3 linked regions of the Homo sapiens genome follow. The protein of the gene in region 2 purifies or fractionates together with the protein of the main gene of each other region. This does not show direct contact. Each region holds a gene or a part of one and is shown on either strand. Other genes may lie near its edges.

Evidence for each region. Proteins that work in one complex are often made in the same cells at the same time.
Region 1: the proteins of ADARB1 (region 2) and CHLSN purify together in Homo sapiens (affinity purification with mass spectrometry; 2 studies listed by BioGRID and IntAct, with this or other methods). This does not show direct contact.
Region 3: the proteins of ADARB1 (region 2) and SDAD1 purify together in Homo sapiens (affinity purification with mass spectrometry; 2 studies listed by BioGRID and IntAct, with this or other methods). This does not show direct contact.

The regions. Positions count from the first base shown.
Region 1 is NC_000007.14:996,504-1,002,888, reverse strand, and holds the end of CHLSN (protein cholesin), read left to right. Parts: intron 1-2,337; coding exon 2,338-2,419; coding exon of another isoform or gene 2,420-2,423; intron 2,424-5,084; coding exon 5,085-5,264; 3' UTR 5,265-5,455; coding exon of another isoform or gene 5,456-5,473; 3' UTR 5,474-5,883; downstream 5,884-6,385. UniProt on the Homo sapiens protein: Hormone secreted from the intestine in response to cholesterol, where it acts to inhibit cholesterol synthesis in the liver and VLDL secretion,leading to a reduction in circulating cholesterol levels. Acts through binding to its receptor, GPR146.
Region 2 is NC_000021.9:45,069,152-45,078,328, forward strand, and holds the start of ADARB1 (double-stranded RNA-specific editase 1), read left to right. Parts: upstream 1-5,428; 5' UTR 5,429-5,642; intron 5,643-5,899; exon of another isoform or gene 5,900-5,947; intron 5,948-9,177. UniProt on the Homo sapiens protein: Catalyzes the hydrolytic deamination of adenosine to inosine in double-stranded RNA (dsRNA) referred to as A-to-I RNA editing.
Region 3 is NC_000004.12:75,987,944-75,996,252, reverse strand, and holds the start of SDAD1 (protein SDA1 homolog), read left to right. Parts: upstream 1-5,307; 5' UTR 5,308-5,411; coding exon 5,412-5,501; exon of another isoform or gene 5,502-5,542; coding exon of another isoform or gene 5,543-5,557; intron 5,558-8,309.

The sequences.
Region 1 (6,385 bases), on a different chromosome or scaffold from region 2:
GGACTCCCCACCCACAGGACTCCACTCACCCACAGGACTCCCCACCCGCAGGACTCCACTCACCCACAGGACTCCCCACCCACAGGACTCCACTCACCCACAGGACTCCACTCACCCAAGGACTCCCCACCCACAGGACTCCCCACCCACAGGATTCCACTCACCCACAGGGCTCCACTCACCCACAGGGCTCCACTCACCCGCAGGACTCCACTCACCCGCAGGACTCCACTCACCCGCAGGACTCCCCACCCACAGGACTCCCCACCCGCAGGACTCCACTCACCCACAGGGCTCCACTCACCCGCAGGGCTCCACTCACCCGCAGGACTCCACTCACCCACAGGGCTCCACTCACCCACAGGACTCCCCACCCACAGGACTCCACTCACCCACAGGACTCCCCACCCACAGGACTCCACTCACCCACAGGACTCCACTCACCCACAGGACTCCCCACCCACAGGACTCCCCACCGGCAGGACTCCACTCACCCACAGGACTCCCCACCCACAGGACTCCATTCACCCACAGGACTCCCCACCCACAGGGCTCCACACCCACAGGATTCCCTACCCACAGGACTCCCCACCCACAGGATTCCACTCACCCACAGGGCTCCACTCACCCACAGGACTCCACTCACCCGCAGGACTCCACTCACCCGCAGGACTCCACTCACCCACAGGACTCCCCACCCACAGGACTCCCCACCTGCAGGACTCCACTCACCCACAGGACTCCACTCACCCACAGGGCTCCACTCACCCACAGGACTTCCCACCCACAGGACTCCACTCACCCAGAGGACTCCCCACCCACAGGACTCCCCACCCGCAGGACTCCACTAACCCACAGGACTCCCCACCCACAGGACTCCACTCACCCACAGGACTCCCCACCCACAGGACTCCACTCACCCACAGGACTCCACTCACCCACAGGACTCCCCACCCGCAGGACTCCCCACCCGCAGGACTCCCCACCCACAGGACTCCACTCACCCACAGGACTCCCCACCCACAGGACTCCACTCACCCACAGGACTCCCCACCCACAGGGCTCCACACCCACAGGACTCCCTACCCACAGGACTCCCCACCCACAGGACTCCACTCACCCGCAGGACTCCACTCACCCACAGGACTCCCCACCCACAGGACTCCACTAACCCACAGGACTCCCCACCCGCAGGACTCCCCACCCGCAGGACTCCACTCACCCACAGGACTCCACTCACCCACAGGACTCCCCACCCGCAGGACTCCCCACCGGCAGGACCCCCCACCCGCAGGACTCCACTCACCCACAGGACTCCCCACCCACAGGGCTCCACTCACCCACAGGACTCCCCACCCACAGGATTCCACTCACCCACAGGACTCCACTCACCCGCAGGACTCCACTCACCCACAGGACTCCCCACCCACAGGACTCCACTCACCCACAGGAATCCCCACCCACAGGACTCCACTCACCCACAGGACTCCCCACCCACAGGACTCCACTCACCCACAGGACTCCCCACCCACAGGGCTCCACACCCACAGGACTCCACTCACCCACATGGCAGTGGGGTCAGGCAAGCTGGGCAGCGCTCACAACAGGCACAGGGCCCTCCCCCGTGCTGAGCCTACAGTCTTCAGACCTGGGCTTGCACACTGATGGAGGCTTCTGGGCTCGGCTGCCCTGCCTGGCCCTGGAAACACGTATCTGGGAGGAGGTCTCTGGAGTAAACCCTGCCTGGCCCTGCCCTACCCACAGCGCCAGCTTCGCTCCATCCGCAGCTGCCTGATGTCCACAGGCCCTAGTGCAGGAGCGGGACGGGGGCGGGGTGGTTGTGGCCCTGGGGAGCGGCCCCTCTAGCAGCCGGGAGCTGCTCGTCCCCAGGCCCACTGGCCCCTTGTTGTGAGGGCCTGGGACTCAGGGTATTGTTCCTTACAGTCTTCCCATTTTCATGTAGAAAATACATCATCAATTACATCGCTCCCTTTCCTCCCAGAGAAACTCACTTCATCCTTCCCCCCCTGTAAAATCCGTGTGACCCATGGGGTGGGGGAGCCCACGGGGACTTGGGGTCAGTGGTGAGCCCCGGGGTGGCCAAGGTAAGAGTGGCGTCCACATGCTTCCTGGTCAGGCGGCAGCAGGGCGTGGGGTTGCGGCTCCTCGCCTCGGGCAGGGGAGGGGCTCCAAAAACCCTCTTCACATGAGGCCTTGGTGTGTAGTACCTGGTGGGGCTCCCTCTCCTAAGATGAGGCGTCCCCGATCTCTCAGGGCAGACAGCTGCCCGGGAGTCTTTTGCCCAGCACCCTGAGATGTTTGTCTTTCTTTCCCTAGATGGGCCCAAAAGCACAAGAACTGGAGGTTTCAGAAGACGAGGCAGACGTGGCTCCTGCTGCACATGTATGACAGTGACAAGGTGTGTGCACGGCGGGGCAGGCACGTCTCCTGGGGGCTGAGGTCTGTGCACGGCGGGGCAGGCACGTCCCCCCGGGGGCTGAGGTGTGTGCACGGCGGGGCAGGCACGTCTCCCGGGGGCTGAGGTGTGTGCACGGCGGGGCAGGCACGTCTCCCGGGGGCTGAGGTCTGTGCACGGCGGGGCAGGCACGTCTCCTGGGGGCTGAGGTCTGTGCACGGCGGGGCAGGCACGTCTCCTGTGCACACTGGGGCCCTGACAGCAGAAGCCACAGTCTGAAGGGGCCGCCCTCAGGGCCCCACTGCAGGGCAGGTCTCCCGGTGCCTTTGTTCTAAGAGATGAGCAGCGTTGCCTCCTCCAGGAGCCCTGCCGCCGGCCTTCAGGGCAGAAACCAACACGGGGTAACCTTAGGGAGGCCACCTGCACGTGTGCGTGTGACGTGTGTCTACACGTGCGTGTGTGCATGACGTGTGTCTACACGTGTGTGCGCGTGATGTGTGTCTACACATGTACGTGTGGGCAGCTGCCCTTTTCAGGGGCAGGATGTGAGATAGAGTTTCACAGGATGAAACGAGACAGAATTCTGAACTAAACCCGGCTGCTGGGCGGCGGGCTGGAGCTGCCCATGTCCTGTGAGGCTGGAGGAGCCCACGGTTCTGCTGAGCTGCATCCGGTGGGCAGTGCCTCCTGCCTCGCTGGCTCTCCTGCGCCCACGTTACTAGAGGCCAGGCTTTGCGTGCGCGCTGGGGGCAGGGGGCGGTTTTCTCCTGCCGTGCCTGTGTTTGCAGACTCTCAGAGCGGGGCAGGCCCACCAGCCCCACTCACAGCCCTGGGACATTCCAGGCATAGCCTGCAGCCACTTGCTTTCATTATTTTGTTGTTTTTGTTTTTTTGTGGGCGTTTTTTGAGACAGGGCCCCGCCCAGGCTGGAGTGCAGTGACACGACCACAGTTCACTGCAGCCTCGACCTCCTGGGCTCAAGCCACTCTCCCTCCTCAGAGTTAGAGGACATACACATTGCAAGCCCTATTGCAAGCCGATTGTAAGCCCTATTGCAAGCTCCGGTAATCGCGACACTGGGGCAGGCACAAGGGTGGAAGTAGAATTGACTGGAACAGCCTGGGAAGCCTGGAAACCCTCACGCCCGGCGCAGCTGATTCCAGCATGCGGGCCAAGCCTGTTCCATGTGGAGGAAACCTCTTCTTAACAGAGCCAGGGACAACTGGGTTTCCACGTTTTGTTTTGTTTTAACCAAAGTTTACGTGGTTTTATTTATATGTTACTATTACCAAAAGTAAACTTTATACAAAACTTTTTATACAGAAAAATAATCCTTGGTTAGGCAAATCCTTGGTTAGCCATTTATATGTGTGTATACACACACACACACACGCAAAGTTATCTTACACTATTGTAATTAAACATATTTACAAACACACAAATGTGCATTTTACTTATACATTTTTATTTCATATGTAACCGTACATATTTACGAACATGCCGATACTTAATGCACGCAGCCCCCAGCTTCAAACCATATGCAAAAATTAACTCAAAATGGATCAGAGACTTAAATTTAAAAGCTAAAACCAAAACTCTTAGATGAAAGCCTAAGAGTCCATTTCGTGCCCTTGGGTGAGGCAACAGTTTCTTAAATGTGACTCTAGAAGCACAAGCGACAAAGGAAAAAGTCGAGAAAGTGCCTTCATCAGGATCTAAGACTGTGTAGCCGGGCGTGGTGGCTCACGCCTGTAATCCCAGCACTTTGGGAGTCTGAGGCGGGTGGATCACTTGAGGTCAAGAGTTCGAGACCAGCCTGGCCAACATGGCAAAAACCCCGTCTCTACTAAAAATACAAAAATTAGCTAGGTGTGGTAATGCTTGCCTATAATCCCAGCTACTTGGGAGGCTGAGGCAGGAGAATTACTTGAACCTGGGAGGTGGAGATCGTGCCACTGCACTGCAGCCTGGACAACAGAGCAAGACCGGCTCAAAAAAAAAAAAAAAAAAAAAAAGAATCTAAGACTTTGCACTGCATACAGAACTAGCTGGAAAGTGAAATGGTTGCTACAGAATGGGAGACGTTTGCAAGTCCCACATGGAATTAGAACTCTGCTAACTCAATAATAAAAAGAGCCCAGTGTTGAAAGCCGCTGCCACAGGGACCTGAGGAAACGTGCCTGCAGAGCAGATTGTCAGGTGACTGGTGAGCCTGTGCAGAGGTGCCCCCACCACCAGCAGACAAGGGTCAGGCCACCAAGAGATGCCACCTGGCCACTGCCGCCCTGAGCAGAAAGGCGAGCGTGCCAAGTGCCGGCGCGTACTTGGCTTTTTGTTCTGAATGCACCTTTCATCACCGCCTACCCCTGTTTAATTTGTGTCGTATTTTCTCGTTTTTCTGAGGATTTTTACGATGTTTGTGAAATGTTCTCCCCACATGGCTTCTGTTTTACCCAGGTTAATTGAGTGTTTTGTCTGCCTCTAAACAGGCATTTCTTCTTCCAGTGTCTGGGGCAGGGTCTGTGGCCAGGCCGCCCACACCCTCGGGCCGCAGTGGGAGGACGGAAGCCTGAGGCCCGGGTGTCCTTGGCTGCAGCGTCTTGTCTCCTGCTGTTCAGCGGCCCCTCCCTGCCCCGCCCCTGACCAACTCGATCTCTTTCCCGTCCAGGTTCCCGATGAGCACTTCTCCACCCTGCTGGCCTACCTGGAGGGGCTGCAGGGCCGGGCCCGAGAGCTGACGGTGCAGAAGGCGGAAGCCCTGATGCGGGAGCTGGATGAGGAGGGCTCTGATCCCCCCCTGCCGGGGAGGGCCCAGCGCATCCGACAGGTGCTGCAGCTGCTCTCCTAGTGGGTTCAGCGCGGGGCGGGGCCGCTGCCCAGTGCAGGGCTGCCTCAGACCACACAGGGTGCAGCTCCTCCGGCGGTGGGGGCCGGGTTCACCAGCAGGGCAGCGGCTGAGCAAGGGCTTTCAGCTCCTCCGGTGGTGGGGGCCGGGATCACCAGCACCAGAGCCTCGCAAGGGCCCCTTCCCTCCTCCAGACCCTCCTTGGCCGGTGACGGCTGTGACAGTGATGGCAGGTTCAGTGCCTTCAGCGCAGAGCGTGGATGCTCTGGAATCACCCGGACCCCTGGCCTTGGAGGGACCCTCCAGCCCCAGGAATCTGCTTTGGAGGGAAATGTCTATTTTTCTACCGGGAATATTTTAGAGATTGGGGCATGCTGGCTCCTCCCGCCAGCTGCAAACCTGCACCTTCCGCCTGATTCCCGATCCCCCTGCGTGGGCCGCATTCCTGGTCCCCTGCCTGCGTCCATCGAGGGGCCTGGCTGTGGCCTGTTTTCCTTTGACCCCACACAGCGTCATTGCGGGTCATGGGGAGCCCCTGGTGGGAGCTTGTGGAGTCGGATCACGTACCTGTGCAGAAACCGCCTCTGTGGCTGCATTTGAAATAAAACCCGACCCAGCAGCAGCCGTGGGTCCTGCTCTGTGCGGTGCGTCCCCTGCCTGTGGACTGCGGAATTCGTGTCCCCCATGCCAGCGCACGCCAGGCTGAGACCCCGCCCTTGGTGGCCACCCCAGGATGGCATTGGGGGCGCTCTGTGTGTGGCGTTCCTGGCAGTGGGTGCTGGCTGATCGCTTGCGTTCAGGCCGGCCGTTTCCCAGCGCTGGCAGTGACTGACCCTGCCAGGAAACACACTTAGGCCGCACAGAATCAAGCCACACACTTCCTGTTCCCAGCAGCACGTGGTCCCTGCCCCCAAGTGATGTGAGGTGCCGCGGGGCACCGGGAAGGCCGTGGTGACCGCAGAGCTCTGGGCAGCTGCCGGGGAGGGCCGGGTGGCCATGGCGAGGAGGTCCGTGCCCCACTGTGAGGCCAAGTCTGTTCCAGGATGGGCCCCGGGGAGGGCTGAGGCCAGTGGCTCCGGTCTGGGCCTCCACAGAGCAGACACCCAGGTGCTGCTGCCCCGGGG
Region 2 (9,177 bases):
ATCCCCCGTGTCATCCCAGAGCACCATCACCCGCCAATATGTGCAAGCCAGGATCCTGGGTAAGCCCTGATGCTTCTCCTCCCCAGACCCCTCTAGTGACTCTATCACTAAGTCCTGTTGAGTCTAATTCCAAAAGCCTCTTAACTCTTTCCATTTCCACTGTCAACACCTGATGAAGGTCTTCTGCATGGAAGCCGCAGGCATGCCTGAGCTCTAGGCAGACACCGCCGGGTAAGTCAGAGCCTCCGTCCCCTCACCGGGGTGCTGATTTGGGTTGTGTTTCTCCCACCCCCAGACAGTCTATGCACTTCGATGGCAGCTGCTCCACCTCCCAGTTCCAGAGCTAGGCCCTACTTGGCTAAACCAGGGATTGCCTTTCTCTGCAAAGGGCCAGATGGCAAAGATCTATGGCTCTACCGGCCACATAAGCCCACTGCATCTATTCTTCATAAGCCCCCACCCACCCCAACACTTTACATGTTTAATGTTCATTCTTAGCTGTTGACTGGACACCACTGGGCCCAGGCTCAGCCTGCCCACCTCTGACTTAACCACGCAGCACATTCCCTTTCCCTGGTCTCTACAGAGTGCAAAGTGGCCTGACCAGGAGGACTCTTCTGACCAATGGTGGCAGAAGCCTCCTCTCTTCTCTGACTTCATGTGCCATGGAAGTGCTTTTTCCTCTGCCACAGGCACTCCTGCTGTCAATGCCTTCTCATCCTCCAAGGCTCAATGCAGCTTCCTGCATTTTTCCTCTGCCACAGGCATTCCCGCCGTCAGTGCCTTCTCATCCTCCAAGGCTCAGTGCAGCTTCCTGCAGCTTGCTCTGACACTCCTGAGCGGTGCAGCTGCAGTGCCCTGGACTCCTGCAACCGTTCACACTCCTCTTCATTAGGAGCCTGCATTTGTACATCACCACTGGAGCTTTTCCACCCATCGTCTCCCTCTTCTGGATGCAGAACAGGCTCAGACAGGCCAAACAACTTGGCCAGTGCTGCATGGCACAGCCAGGTCCGCACTGACTGTCACGCCTCTGTTCCTGCCCTGGACGGTGTCTCAGGTAACACACTGCACTGCTCCCTGACACCATCTCCCCACTAGAACATGAACGCCCTGAAGCAAAGACATCTTCCTGGCCACGTGTTGACCTATGCACGTGACACTGCCTACGGCGCTGAAAGGCCATCAGTTCGTCCTCTCTCTCCTGCCCCTGTGTGTCTACCCCAGTTTTCTCTCTTCAGGCTGGCCAGTGATGGAGACCATCCTAATTGTGCTGGATTTGAACCCTTCAGGCCTAGGCACAAAGAGAGACTCACGATTGTCTCAATGCTAGCTCTAAGCACCCAGGGCCATCCTGGGAGTCAGAATCCCGCCTGAGGTCCTGGAGTGGGTTGTGGGGGGGTGTGCTGTGTGCCTGTCACAGAGCACAGACAGACTGTTCCTGCTGTGTCACTGTGGGAGTTGGGAGTTGTCCTAGAGACAGTGGCACATTGTGAGCTGGGCAGGTCTCACACATGGTATCCACCACCATGGCAGCTGCTGACTGAATGGTTTGGCAACATCTGGTTTTTGCCACTCCAGTCTCATGTCTTCTTATTTTATTTTTAAAATATAGGGCAAAAAATATTATGTCTCAAATCACGGTATCACCGAATATTGGTCACCTCTTATTAGCAGTTTTATGCTCCTCCTGACGTTTGAGAAACAAGGAAATCAATAATCCACTTTAGGCTACAATCTAAAAAGTACCTGTGAGTGTCCTTTCTCAAATAGATTGGGCAGAATTAAAACAAAGCAAGATTGTTTAAAGCTACATTTTTAGTTGCACACAAGGACTATAGTCAAATAGGCTTCAAAAGCACAAAGGCTGTGGTCAGTCATCAGCCCTAGGACACCAGGACCAAGACCAGGCCACAGTCTCAGCACAGCAGGTTGGCAGCTCGCTCTGTAATTGATGAGACAGAAATCTGAGCACACGGATTGCCCTGTGTGGCTGGAAAGGGAAAGGAAGGCTGTCCTGGCCACCGCGGCCCAGGGAGGCCAGCACACCCGTGCGCAGGTCACGTGACCCACTGCTCTGATCCCACCGTTCTAGCCACAGTCTGCCAGGCCCTGGGCATGACAGGAAGGGGGTTCACAGATCAGTGGCATTTACACGGGTAAGCTTTGAACACTGTCTTCAACTGAAAGGCCAGTGTGTGAACAGGCCGGGCAGCTGGACCACTCCGAGGCTGGCGCCTTCCCCTCCTTTCGGGCAGTTCCCAGAAGGCTCAAGACCACAGTTTGAAATCCACTTAATCTCTCGAGTCGGCCTGGGTCTATATCCTAAGACCGTGGAAATCATTTTGTGCCACCGTATCCTGTAGGCATTGGCAGGACCAGCGTAATTTTTAGTTCTTCTCGTGGGAGACAGTCACAGGGTCATGCCATTTAACTGCACTGAAGGGAAAACGTGGGAAATGGATTTTTGGTGCTGTGTAGACCACATTTCATAGCGGTTGGCATCTCACATGCTTATGCAAAGCCTAACTCCGCACCCTGGGGCAGACAGTGGGAGCCCAGCTGGATTCCTACACTCAAGCCCTCCAGCATCAGGTTTATTTTCCAGGACACCAGAGTGATTGTTTATTCCATAATTCCCACAAAGGAGACAGTAAACAACAGAACAGAGGTGGAGCGGGCACGGAAGGCCAGGAAGTGGATGGTGGCTGCCAGCACTTCTGTGGAGACCCAGGGCCCCCCTCCAGGAGCCCCGGTGTTCAACCTCCACAGTGAACAGGGGATGGATGGCTGAGATGTCCTCGAAATTTTTTTGGACTTCCTCAGGCGACCACAGGATTCCTTCTCAAAGAGCCTGATCTCAGCAGGCACCCGAATGGGCATCCTGGTGCTTCATGCTCTACAACAGCTGGGAACGCCATGTCCTGGCCCCAGGCGACTGGAAACTGCTTTCCTCCCCGACATCAGCACCAAGGGGAATGTTCCCAGTGCCATTCTTCCAAGTCAGGGAGAGCGTCACAATAGAAACCGTCTCTGTGGAGAGGATGGCACCTGAAGCCATGGAATAGGAAGGGAGCATCAGAGGCTGCTGGCTGGTCCTGCAGAGCCGCCTGAGAGGCCTGTGGGAGCAGCAGAGGGTCCCGGCCTTGGGCGCCATCCGCTCTCTGCTGCTCTGGAGGGAGAAAAAGGACAAGTTGAAACTTGCACAAGCAGCCTCCATTCTGGGGAGTTCCCTTGTATTCCCCACACCAACCCGCACCTCAGCGAAGGCCTGTGGAAGACTTCTGCAGTGACAGCCCCGATGAACCATGCTTGCCGTGCCCGTCCCCTGTGCGGTGCCTCACGTCCACTCAGGCCCCGGCCATCTCACCCTCCTGGGGAGATGGAGGGAAGCACCATGGGGATTTGCTTTTTCTTGCTGCCGACGGAGCCCAGCCACCACGGGAGGGAGGCCCGGCCAGCCTGCGGTGGGTGGGTGACATGTGGCCCGGATCTGCCCGGGGCGCCTGCCTGTAAGTGGGCCCAGCAGACACCCCATGGAGCCGAGGCAAGCCGTCCCAGCTGAACCGGCTTAAGCTGCAGGCCCACAGAGTCATGAGCAGTGAAGAGAGGTTTTCGCCCTCTGAGGTTTGGGGTGGCCTGTTACACAGAAATACACACAACGTCCTCAGGCACGTATCTCTTTAAGAATGTGTCCCGAGAAGGCGTCCCAGGAGTCTTGATTTTTATTTAGCCGTCCACGGTTGCCCCTTTGGGTGCTTCGCCTTCAGATGGGGTGAAGGGCTCACTTGTTAGCTGGCTGGCCCCAAAGACAGGCTTGTTTTCCACCAGGCAGTGACTGAAGCCGGCAGCCTGCTGCATACCGCGGGCCTTCCCCTGACCTGTCCGGGACTGCGGGCTGGCGGCTGACACCTGCGGAGTGCTTACCGCATACCAGGCTCCCAAACTTCCATCTGTGTTCGTCTTTTAAGTTTTGTTGTTTTCCAGAGTCGGAGTCTCAGTGTTGCCCGGGCCAGAGCGCAGCGGCCATTTATAGGCGCGGACCTCGGCCTCGCACACCACAGCTCCAGCTCTGAGACACAAGCGACCCGCACCCCCCCACCGCCCAGCCCCAGCCTCCAGACTGGCTGAGATCACAGTGTGCGCCACCCCATCCCTGGCTTGCGATGGTCTCTTACTCCCCACTTTACAAGGGAGGAAAGAGGCCGAGGGCAGAGTGGGCCGCCTGAGGTTTGGAGGCCAGGGCTAGTACAACCTCAATTTGACCCTGGAACCTGCCGCTTCCCCCACCCAGGTGCGGGACCCACCCGCTTGTCCACACCTGGCTCTGCCCACCGCCCCCGGCTGCTCCTCTGGGCTCAGGTCGCCGCGGTCAGGAGCTGCCAAGTTTGCCTATCAAACTTTATCTTCGTGCAGAGAACTGCAGCCTGGAGCTGGTTATTCCGGTCAGTGAAAACGTTGCATTTCTACATATGCTTATCATCATCTGTGTAAACATTTCTTGGTATAACTGTGGAACAGTCAGTAAATATAGATAAATCGAAGAGTAGGTCTATTGCATATGCTATAAAAAAATGCTTTTACTATCAACCTAAAACAAACAAACAAACAAAAAAAATCAAACAAAACCACCATCACCTAAACGTTGGTAACTGGAGCAGCTGCTAGTGTCAGTGCGGACTAAACAGGAGACGGCGGGAACCGTGTCCAGCCAGGGTCCTGGGCCGCGACCTGGTTCTCCCGGAGTCTACAGTGAGGATGACGGGCGGGGAGAGGGGGCCGGCGGGACCCGCGTGTCCCAGGCAACTCCGGGAGAGGGAGAAGCAGGGGTGGCTCGGCGGGGGCTCGGCGGGGGCTCGGCGGGGGCTCGGCGGGGGCTCGGCGGGGGCTCGGCGGGGGCTCGGCGGGGGCAGCGCCCGCTGCAGGGAGGAGCGCGGGGGCCCGGGAGCCTGGGCAGCACCGCGAGACGCCACCTCCGCAAAACGCAAACGCCAATCGCCGGGCGCCTGCGGTCCCAGCTACCAGGGAGGCTGAGGCGGCAGGATCGCGTGAGCTCGGAGGTCCACCGCGCTCCAGTCTGGGCGACAGTGAGACCCCGTCCCCAAAACGAAGGCGGGCAGAGTCTCCTCAGCCGCGCTCGGGCGGGCGGCGCCGCGACGCCAGGCCGGTCCCGCGCTCTCGCCCCACGCTCCGGAGCCGCCCAGCCGCGGTCTCTCAGCTCCGGCCGCGCTCCAGCCCCAACGGCCCCGCGCCCGTCCGCCGCAGGTGGTCGTGAGGGAGGTGCCACAGCTCCGGCTGCCCACGACAGACACGGGCGCCCCAGCGCGCGCACGTCCGGCGTCGCTGCGCCGCCCCCGCCCCCTCGGCGTGCGCGCGCCCGGCGGGCCGGCGGGGGCGGGGAGGGGGCGGAGCCGCCGGCGGCGGGGCTGAGGCGCTGAGGCGGCCGTGGCGGCGGCGGCGGCGGCGGCGGCAGCGGCGGCCAAGCGGCCAGGTTGGCGGCCGGGGCTCCGGGCCGCGCGAGGCCACGGCCACGCCGCGCCGCTGCGCACAACCAACGAGGCAGAGCGCCGCCCGGCGCGAGACTGCGGCCGAAGCGTGGGGCGCGCGTGCGGAGGACCAGGCGCGGCGCGGCTGCGGCTGAGGTGAGGGCGGCGCGGGGCCGCGGCGGCTCGGGCGGGCGCGGGCTCCGGACCCCGCGGTGGCGGCGTTTATGTAAGCGCCGGGCAGGGACTGGTGGTGGGGCCGGAGCTGCGGGCCGTCCCGGGAGCGGAGGGCGCCCGCGGAGAAGCGAGGGTGCCGCGGCACCGCCTCGCACCCACCCTCCTGGGTCGCCCGTCTGCTCCGGCGCTCGGCTCCCGGAGGAAGCTGCGCCCGGGCGGCCCCGCGTCCCCTCCCGAGGGCGCCGAGTCCGCGTGGGATGCGCCGCGCTGCGCCGCGGGGAGGGCAGGTGCGCCGGGACGAGGCTGCGCCCTGGGGACCGAGACTGCGTTTTGGGGAGGGGACGGTGTGCCCTGGAGATCGGAGGCTGCGCTGGGGACGAGGCTGCGCCCGGGGACCAGAGGCTGCCCCGGGTACAAGGTTGCGCCGGGGAACGGGAGGCTGCGTTGGCAACAAGGCTGCGCCTGGGGACGGTAGGCTATGTCCCTGGGGAGACGCTCCGCCCGGCATGGGACGCTGCGCCGGGGGACGGCAGGCTGCGCCCGGGATGAGGCTGGGCCCGGGCAGGGGAGGCTGCCTTGGGAGGGGACGCTGTGCCACGGGAGTGGAGACTGCGTTGGGGACGAGTCTGCGCCCTGGACGGTCCTGCGTGTCCTTCCGAGGGCGCAGTGTCCGCGCGGGATGCTCTGCGCCGCGGGCGGCCCGGGCCAGGGAAGTTCCTGCGGGTGCCGGGCGTCTGCAGCGATCGGGAGCAATCTGGGGCAGTTGGGGGCCCGAGGTGACTTTTGACGTGTTCACATCAGAAGGAAAATTATTGCGTGGTGGATGGGTGCGAGGGAAGGTGTCAGATTGGGCTGTGGACGCTGAAACGTGTTGGAGTCCCGATTTACACGCTGGAAAACCTAACCTAAAACGTGTTCCTGTCCAGGTTTCTATGTCGGAGATCTGCACCGTGGTGTTTAGTTCCCAGTTAATATTTTTGGTCAGCAGGTTTGGGCTGTTACTTCTGATACAGGCATTTTACTTCCTTCTTACTAACCATTATTGCATTCCGTTCTCGAAGTATAACGAAAAGTGGCATGATATCAAACTTGTTTCTTTAACGTTTAACTCCATAATTAAGATGATAGAACCGTAGTTTTTTTAATTGAGAATACAAATATGTATTTAATCCTCTTTGTTTCCTCTTAAATTTTGCCGTATGTTTTATTGCTTCGAAAGGTGCCACCCAGAGCTGCATTTTCCAAAACGCTAGGTTGTCTTAAGAGCAGTTGTTTCTAGGAGATAGAAAAGCTAATTGTCTTTTGATGACCATCTTTTCCTTGGGGTTGAGACTGCTGTATCCTTTTTGCCTGCTGAGGGTTTCCCAGAGGGGAAAGGGAGAAGGAAGAAAGGATAAAAGCTTGGCTGATACAGTTCCTTCTTGGATAAGAGAATTAACTGTCTCTCATTGCGCGGTTCCTCCGGAGGACAGGGTCCAGTATGCATGGACAGCCACAACGGGGGCTCGGTAAGTATTTGATGAGACAGGCTGAGCTGGGTGCCTATATCTTGCCTGTGGTGGAGAGGATGAACTCACACAGACTCTGAAAGGAATGCATTGTCTGTGAGTGATGCCCTGTTAGATGTCTGAGGGTTCCTAAGACTGGGTATATCCCACTACATCTACATCACATTTGAAGCTGTAGTTGGAAAGGAAAAAAGGAGGCCCTCCTGCAGGGACAGGGGCTTAAAAATAATCGATCCAGCTCTGAGAAATTGATGACACATGTGTCTCTGGTGTGACGTGCTCATGCAGTTGTTACTGGGAGGCCAAGGGGGAAGGATTAGCTATGAAGTGATAACATCATCCACAAAAAACATCTTGGCTCAGAGGCTAATTTCACTTCCTCGTGAATTTATGTATTGTAAAACATTTGAATTCTTTTAGATTTTTGGAATAAGAATTTTTTTAACTTCTATTTGTCCAGTGAATGCATAAAACAAACTTAATCCATTTGACAAATACTTGTCTGTGGCCTGTTATGTGCTAGGCCTTCCCTGTTTTAGGCCCTAGGAGATACAGTACTTAACAAGATAGGTAGAGATCAAAAATGCTTCTGGCATAAAGCAGTACATTTGTATTGATAGATTTAAAAAGATAAGCAAGCACACAGTACCTACAGAAAGGTAAAGCCTCATTCCACTCCATCCCTGGGCACTTGGTTCAAAGGCTGCACCCAATTGTGTATTGTCCTAGCAGGAGTCAAAGTGTGTATTGTATATGTTTTAATATATGACAAACCTTGCTATAGTGCATATTCTTACACGTGGGTACAAGCAAAGCCTACTAATTAGTTATTATCAAAATTTCTTAGCTGTAAGTTTTACTTAAGAACTGGGTTTTATTCCCTTGAATGCTGTGATTAGCTCTGTGATCAAACAATATAATTCAAATAGGAGGTAGTTAACTTTGGAAAGAAATAGATGAAGTTACACATTTACCAGCCTATAAAAAAGTTTAGCAAAGTTATCAAGCTTAGTTTGAAACCAAAAAGCTCAGAGAGGTCCAATTTTATTAGAAAACTCAATGGTGGCCGGGCGCGGTGGCTCACGCCTGTAATCCCAGCACTTTGGGAGGCCGAGGCGGGTAGATCACGAGGTCAGGAGATCGAGACCATCCTTGCTAACACGGTGAAAACCCGTCTCTACTAAAAAAATATAAAAAATCAGCCGGGCATGGTGGTGGGCGCCTGTAGTCCCAGCTACTTGGGAGGCTGAGGCAGGAAAATGGCGTGAACCCAGGAGGCGGAGCTTGCAATGAGCTGAGACCGTGCCATTGCACTCCAGCCTGGGCAACAGAGCGAGACGCCGTCTAAAAAAAAAAAAAGAAAAGAAAAAGAAAACTCAGTGGTTTTCTGTGTCAACTTTCTAAAATAGGAATTTCTAAATCTGTAATTTGGTGTGATGGAAATGGTGTTAAAAAAAAACCCATATTATTTTGTATGTTCATAATATGTGAGGTAGGAAAAGCAAATGGGAAAATTAAAAATTGTCCAGTGAAATCATTAAGATTCCTTCCTTATTCCTTGAGTGACTTTTCTTTCCAAGTTGACAGCTTTTTATCTGGGGTGTGGACAGGGACAGCGCAGTAGCCCACAGAGGTCTTCGTGGCAGGGCTTACCGCACCTTCCATTTGCAGAGTTTTGCTTCATCCATAGCTTGACAGCTGTTGGGCTAGGGCCATTAATATCAAATTATCACAATTTTTTTTTTTTGGTAGTTTGATTAGTACTGCTTGCTGCACTTTTCCACCTGTATGCCTATAAGATGTCCTAGGCGTACACAAAGAAAAGTGACTTTGGTTTTAGGTTTAACGTCTTTGTGATGGAACAGGAAGGGGGATGAAAGTAACTCTGAGATACCTTGTATTTTTATTGGAAGTACAGTGAAATGGAAGCTCTACTTGCTTCTAGTTTGGTGATTTTGGAACCTGGTTCCATTTCATTTGCTTGTTCATCCAACAGGCATTCACCCATG
Region 3 (8,309 bases), on a different chromosome or scaffold from region 2:
AATTAGCTGGGCGTGGTGGCGCATGCCTGTAATCCTAGCTATTCAGGAGGCTGAGGCAGGAGAATCGCTTGAACCAGAGAGTCGGAGGTTGCAGTGAGCCGAGATCGTGCCACTGCATTCCAGCGTGGCAACAGAGTGAGACTCCGTCTAAAAAAAGAAAGAAAGAAAGAAGAAAGAAAATGCAATAAAAAATTAAATTAGCTTTAAGGACTATAATTCTTTATGAGATTTCTGTTTAGTTTGTGGGCATGTCAAATCATGTAATTTTCCCGTTAACAAGAAAAGCATGAGCTCCCTCTAGTGGCTAATCTAACAGTTTTTTTAAACAATAGGCCAAACATCGCAGCTCCCACCTGTAATCCCAACATTTTGAGAGGCTGAGGCGGGAGGATCACTTGAGCCCAGAAGTTTGAGACCAGCCCAGGCAACATAGCCAGACCCACCCACCCGGTCCCTCATTTCTACAAAAAAATTTAAAAATTAACCAGGCATGGTGGTGCACACCTATAGTCCCAGCCACTTGGGAGACTGAAGCAGGAGGATAGTTTGAACCCAGGAGGCTGAGGTTACAGTAAGCCATGATTGTGCCACTGAACTCCAGCCTGAGTGACACAGCAAGACCCTGTCTCAAATAATAATAATAATAAAACAATATATTTTAATCAGAAAAGGATGAAGACATGACTGGCTTTTCCGAACACAGTCAATATCATTGGTTTCTAATGAGAAAGGTAATAACAAGGATTCACACGTTAGTCACTTACTGATTTTCAGGTAAATTTTATCTGCGTTTGTCCAAGATATTTTAAGTTCCTGCTTTAATAAATCACACAGTTGAAGAATTGGAAGTCATTAGAGATTATCCATGCATTCATTCATTCATTCAACAAATATTAACTGATTACCTATTATATGCATGCATTGCTCCAAGTGTACAGGATAGACAATGAACAAAACAGTCTTCATTAAGCTCATATTCTAGTGCATAAAGACAGGCAATAAACAACTAAACTAGTAAGTATACGATATATCAGAGACGGATAAGGGCTTTGGAGAAAATGAAGCAGGGGAAGGGAGTGTGGGGTGAGCAGAGGGCTGTGAGGTCAGGGAAGACATCTCTAATAAGTTGTCATTTGAGCAGAGACTTGACAATGAGAGAGCAAGGCTTGTGGCACTTGAATCAGAGGAAACAGCAAGTGTGAAGGCCTGAAGTTTGACACATTTAAGGCAGCTAGGGGATCATTGCAGGGTTGAAGGGGCGCAGAGTAAGCAAAGGGGAGAGTGATGGGAGAGGAGCCCAGTGAGATAGTGTGGGGTCAGATCATATAAGGTTTTGGGCTGCTATAACAAATTACCACAGACTCGATGACTTCAACAACAAACATTTATTCCTCACAGTTCTGGAGGCTGGCAAGTCCAAAATCTAGGTGCCAGCAGATCTAGTATCTTAGTATTTGATGAGGCACTCTTCTTGATTTGCAAACAGATGTTTTCTCGTATCCTCACATGGCAGAGATCAGAGAGAAAGGAGGTAAGCTTTCTTGTGTCTCTTCTTACAAGGATGATAATCTCATCATGAGGACTCCACCTTCATGAACTAATTACCTCCTAATACCATCCCATTGGGGGTTAGGGTTTCAACATATGAATTTGGCGGGACACAATCATGCAGTTCATAACAGCCTTCTATGCCACTGAAGAACTTCAGCTTTTACTCTGAGTGAGAAGGGAAGTTGGAAGAATAACCTGATCCATTTAAGGCTCTCTCTGACCACTACATGGAAATACAGTGTAAGAGGGTAAGGGAAAATGCAGAGAGACCAGTTAAAGGTCAGTTACCAAGTATGTTTCCAGGAGAAGGGAGAGACCAACTGTGTCCAATGCTGCAGGTTAAGTTAAATAATGAAAATTGATGTGATTGGTGATCTTGATAAAAAACAGTTTCAGTGGAATGGTAGAAGCAAAAGATTGATCGGCAGTTTCTTAAAAGTTACACGTAAACCTATCATATTGATCCAGTTATTCTATTCCTAGACATTTACCAAGATATTTATGTCCACATAGAGACTTGATGGCACGACATGGTGGCTCAAGCCTGTAATCCCAACACTTTGAGAGGCCAAGGCGGGAGGATCACTTGAGGCCAGGAATTCAAGACCAGCCTGGACAACATAGTGAGACCCTGTCTTTTATATATATATATATATTTTTTTTTTTTTTTTTTTTTTTTTTTGAGACGGAGTCTTGCTCTGTCACCAAGGTTGGAGTGCAGTGGTGCGATCTTGGCTCACTGCAACCTCCACCTCCTGGGTTCAACCGACTCCCCTGCCTCAGCCTCCTGAGTAGCTGGGACTACAGGTGCGCGCCACCACGCCCGGCTAATTTTTTGTATTTTTTAGCAGAGACGGAGTTTCACCATGTTGGCCAGGATGATCTCGATCTCCTGACCTCGTGACCCGCCGCCTCGGCCTCCCAAAGTGCTGGGATTACAGGCGTGAGCCACTGAGCCCAGCCAAAAATATATTTTTTTAAATTAGCTGGGCATGGTGGCACACCACCTGTAGTCCCAGCTACTAGGGAGGCTGAGTTTAGGAGTTCAAGGCTGCAGTGAGCTATGATCATGCCACTGCACTCCACCCTTGGTGACAGAGCAACACCCTATCTCTTAAAAAGAGACTTGAACATGAATGTTCACAGCCAAAACTGGAAACAACCCAAATATCCAGCAACTAGTGAATGGATAAACAAATTGCAATATGTCTATATGATGGAATACTACTCAGGAATAAAAGGAGTGAACTATTGATACATACAACACCATGGATACATTTCAAAATAATTATGCTAAGTGAAAGAACCTTGACCTCAAATAATAGGTACTGTATGATTCCATTTGTATACAATTCCAGCAAACACAGACATATCTTTGGTGACAGAAAGCAGATGTGTGTTTGTCTGGGGATGATGAGGCACAAGGAACGTTTGGGGATGATGGATATAGTCATTATTTTGATTGTGATGATGGTTTTATGGGTACATACATATGTCAAAACTTATCAAATTGTTCACTGGGTAGTTTGTTGTACATCAATTATATCTTAATAAAGCTATAAAATAAATACATTATAATTTTAAAAATAAAGGATGGAATTTCACATGAAAGCAGAGATGTTGGCCTTAGATACCCAAATTATTTAACATCTGAAAAATATATATTCAGTTAGCCACTCTTAGTCTTAGAGTTCTCATTTATCAAAAACAAATCCTGCCTTCCATGCTGCTGGAGGTAAAATGAACTGACCTATATGCCCTCCTTAGAATAGCAATTAAAGCCTTTCATATCAGGACAATATAACCTTCTCAGCTCTTTCCCTGCTGCACCCTGCCCTCCCAGCCTTTAGTCACACCAAACTTATGGCTATTGTTTCAATACACCAGACATTTTCAAGTACCTGTACGCAGTCTTTTTTCTTTTTTTTTTTTTTTTGAGACAGGGTCTCACTGTATTGCCCAGGCTGGTGTGCAGTGCTTCACTGCAACCTTAACCTCCTGGGCTCAAGCAACCCTTTTGCTTCAGCCTCCTCAGTAGCTTGGACCACAAGCCTGTGCCACCATGCCTGGCTGATTTTTCAACTTTTTGGTAGAGATGGGGTCTCACTATATTGCCCAGGCTAGTCTTGAACTACCCAGCTCAAGTGGTTCTCCCACCTTGGCTTCCCAAAGTTCTGGGATTACAGGCTTGAGCTACCACACTTAGCCAGATTTTGTTTTGAGAATACTTTTTTTGCCCTCACTAAAACAACCTAGCCAAAAAATTTTAATTTAAATCTATGCTTTTTAAAAAAGATTTATTGCTGACATTTATTTCTTAACTTCACAGGTAACTGATTTGATAATTAATAAATAAGTCATTCTCCAAAAGCAGCTGAATAACATGGTTTGTGAAGCATTCTTTATTTTGTGTGCAGGTGTGATTACAGAGTTGTTTTGTTTGGGGCTCATTTTATCATCGTCACAGATGAGGTTGGCGTTCTATAAAATTGCTTTGGTTAAGCAGAACCCTATTGTCTGGCTATTTTGCCAGACCAGCAACCAGCTACCAGCTGTTAGGCTATGTTTTTTCTCATGTAGTTACAATCAAGACTGTCTAGATTGAAATCTCATCTTCCTCACAGGCTATGAATTGAGGCAGTCAACTTCCCTGAGCTTGTTTCCTCTTCTGTAAAATGTAGATAACAATAGCACCTATTTTAGAGGGTTGTTCTGAGGATTAAATAAGTTAATACAAGTGCTTGGAATAGTGCCTGGCACAGGGTGGGTAATTAGGTTTTTTTTTCTCTCTCTCTAATTCACAACACCCTACCTCATTCATTCAACCCTTATTGATTTTTTACACCTTGAGATTGTAGAAATGTATTCTCCTCTTCGAATTACCAGGATCTGAATTAAAAACTCTGACTGAGGAGTGCTTACAAAGCTTATAACGATGGTTGAATTTTAACGATTAATTGCATTTATTAATGGTCAACATGATCACATTTTATCCAGCCCTCTTTTCCCTTGTATGGGTCACGCTAAGTTGAAACAACCAAAACCAAAATAAAAACATATCTAAAATCATACACATTAACTTATATGACCCTCGTTGCTCTTTTTTCCTCCTAAGAGGGAATAGTGTTATCTAGCGCCACGGTTCTTTTCAGTTTTGTTTTGTTTTGTTTTGTTTTTTATACGGAGTTTCGCTCTTGTTGCCCAGGCTGGAGTGAAATGGTGCAATCTCGGCTTACCGCAATCTCCGCCTCCTGTGTTCAAGCGATTCTCCTGCCTCAGCCTCCCTAGTAGCTGGGATTACAGGCATGCGCCACCACGCTCGACTAATTTTGTAATTTTAGTAGAGACGGGGTTTCTCCATGTGGATCAGGCCGGTCTCGAACTCCCGACCTCAGGCCCGCCTTGGCCTCCCAAAGTGCTGGGATTACAGGCGTCAGTTTCTAATTTTAGACTGCGGGATTAAAAATAAACGATTAATCCTCATTTATGTGCTTCATATGGGTGTCGGAATGACGATACATGCTAACACACGTGAAAAAATTTACATTTCAGATCCTTTCAGAAACGCAAGGCAATATTAAGTAGTAGCATATGCCCAAGGGCGAGGGGCGGGTCGGCGGTGGCTGGCTCTCCAATACACCACAGAGTATTTTGGCAACGAGAGTAATTTTGACACTCTGAGGCTTCCGTAGCATAGCTCGCTTTAGGAACCGCTAAGGTGTCGCCTGCCTAGAGTCCCATGCGCTATTTCCGGTCATACCCGGAAACACGAGTCCAAGCTGCAGCTGGCAGGGATTGCGGGGTGCCGGCCGTCTGAGTTTTTTTAAAACTGCTCGCCGCGAAGTCTGTCTGCAGCCAAAATGTCCAACAGAAACAACAACAAGCTTCCCAGCAACCTGCCGCAGTTACAGAATCTAATCAAGCGAGACCCGCCGGCCTACATCGAGGAGGTGGGAGTGCGGCGCGGCAGACGCTAGAGGCCGGATAGTGGATGGTTGAGACGCCGGTGCGGGAAAGCATGGAGTGGGGCTGGGATCCAGGCTCGCCGCCTATTCTTCTGTTAGGTTCAGGGGTCCCTCCAGAGGAGAGAAGGGGTTGGGGACGGGACATGCCTTAGGGTTCGTTCCCCACCTCTTGAAAATCTGTTGCCCCTTTGGATTTTCTACCTGCCCTGCTGCCGCTGAAACACCTTTAAAACCTCATTTTGTTTTAAGATATTTTTCTTCGTCCGCACGGAAGTGGAGAGAGAAATGGGCCGCACCCAACCACCAACTTCCACGCGGATTTCTCAGCCTCTTTTCAGAAATCCCAAACTTGAATTAGTCGGTAACCTTTGATGAATCGTATGTTAGAATGCTTTCGATTGACGTCCGTTTCTGAGAGCAGGCTGTGTACCCTGGACTGTGCCAGGAAAGGGGGGGGGGGGGTTTCTCAAGCACAACGGACAGACTCGGGAGCTTAGTATATTTAGTTAAGCCAGGATTCAAACTTACCGGAGACTGGCATGACTCGGATGTCAGAATTTGCTTCGGGAAAAGATTAGGTTGAAAAATTAGGCCCTCATTGTGATGGGCTTTGTGTACTGACCTCATGTAAGTTGTGAACATTAGGGGTGTTTGAACCAAGTACCGACAAAACGAAAGTGGTTTTTGATATATTAATCTGACAGGTGCTTCCTTCAGACACTCATTTATCAGACGGGCATTAAACAGGTATCTCTGCTAGGCATTTGCTGCAATTACATGTTTGTGCTTCTACCAGATTGTGATTTGTTCAGTGGCTAACACAATTACTTATTTTTTCATTGCCCTTCTCACTTCCCTCCTCCCCTAAATTTTCACATATATGTATTTTATGAGTGCTTTTTAACACATGGCAATCTCAGTGGCTTAGGTCACCAGTAGAGAAAGCCTCTCCAAGGATCAAGGTAGTGGAAATAAAGAGTAGGAAACAAGTACAAGAAGTTAAGTAACATAGGCAAGGCTTTGAGATGCTTAAAGCATTGTATAGCCATTCGCAAAGAAAGTGGTAAGTTGAGAGTCTATATAATTCCGTTAGATAACTCCTGCTGCTGACTGTTGTTAACCAGTTGTGTAACCGAAGCAGGTTAATCGCTGAGCCTATGTGGGTATTTTAATATGTAAGAAGGGGGTAATAACTACTTCTTTAATTCACTTAAGTATATATGCAAAATCACATATAACTACTGTGTGTTGTTATTCTAGGTAGGCGTTGGGGTACAGTAATGAATAAGACAGATAAGAAAGCATTCTTCTCTTGGACTTACATTCAAGTGAGTGTAGACTTATTATGGTAGAGATTATGAAGAAAATAAAACTGGATGGGAATAGGTTAGAATTGGAGGCTTCTGATTTAGACCCCGTAAACAGGGAAGGTGGCTCTGCAATGATGATATTGAGCCAGGCAGGTAAACATCATTTTAGGTACAAGGAATAGAAAGTGCAGAAGCTACTGGTGGAAAAAAAGCAGAGAAGAAGCCAGTGTAGCTAAAGTGTAGTCAGCATAGAAGAGGGCAGTGGAAGATGATGTAGGAAATGCAGGCAGGGGTCAGCTTATTCAGAGCCTCTTAGGCCCTGTTAACGAGTTTAGATTTCACTCTGAGTGCCTCGGGGAGTGATTGAAGAGTTTTAAGCAGGAGAGTGACATGATCTGACATATTTTTTTTAAGAATTTACTCTGGAAGTTACATGTGGAATGGCTTGTAGAGGAGCAACACTGGAAGCAGGGTAACTAATATAATGGATCTCAGAATAACCAAGCAAGGGATTGTGGTGTCATTGGAATTATGGGCAAAGATTCGTGCTGTTCTACGTGGAGGTAGAGCTAGTAGAGCCTTGGGATTTCTGGTGGAGTGGATGTGGGGGATAAGGAAAAAAGAAGGAATGAAGGATCACCCAGGTTTTTTATTTATATGTCTAGGTAGATGATAGTGCCATTTCCTGAAGTTCGTTCATTTGACAAATACTGTTGATTACCTGCTATATGTAAGGCACAATGCTGGGCCCTGGGACTACATAATATTGAGCTGTACCGATAAAAATTCTATGCTCATTAAATGACATTCTAGTAGGGGGTGATATACAGTAACAAATAATATAGTATGTTAAATAATGAAAAGTGCTGTGAAAAAAAGACAATAGGAAAGTACTTATGTATGTTGGGGGTGAGATGGGTATTGCAGTTTTAAATTGGATAGTTAGGGAAGGTCTTCTTGAGATAGTAATCTTTGAGTGAAAACCTGAAGGACATGAGGGAGAGCTGTGCATATGTTTAGGAAGAATGATCTAGGCAGAAGGAACAGAAGGTATAAAGACCTTGGGGTAGGTATGCCTGGTAGATTTCAGGAACATAAAGGCCAGTGTGGCTCCAAATAGGGAATGAGGAAAGGGGGTGAATTTGGGATTCTACCTCCCAATGAGATGGAAGCCTTTACAGGGTTTTGAGCAGAAGAATACATGAACCACCCTATATGAGAACAAGATCACCGTTACTTGAGGATAGACTGTATGTAGGAGGGCAAAGATAGAAGCAGAGACACCACATAAGAAGCTATTGGAATTATCCACAGCAAGAGATGATGCTGGGTTGAGTGGTGCTAGGATGGTAACAGGAAGTAGTAAGAAGGGTGATTAGATCCTGGATTGGGTAGGTAGAGAAAGCCCTGGGGATTCCCAACATTTAAAGGCCAGTGAGTTTCTAAGTAACTGGAAAAAGGGACTGAGAAAGCAGCCAGTGAA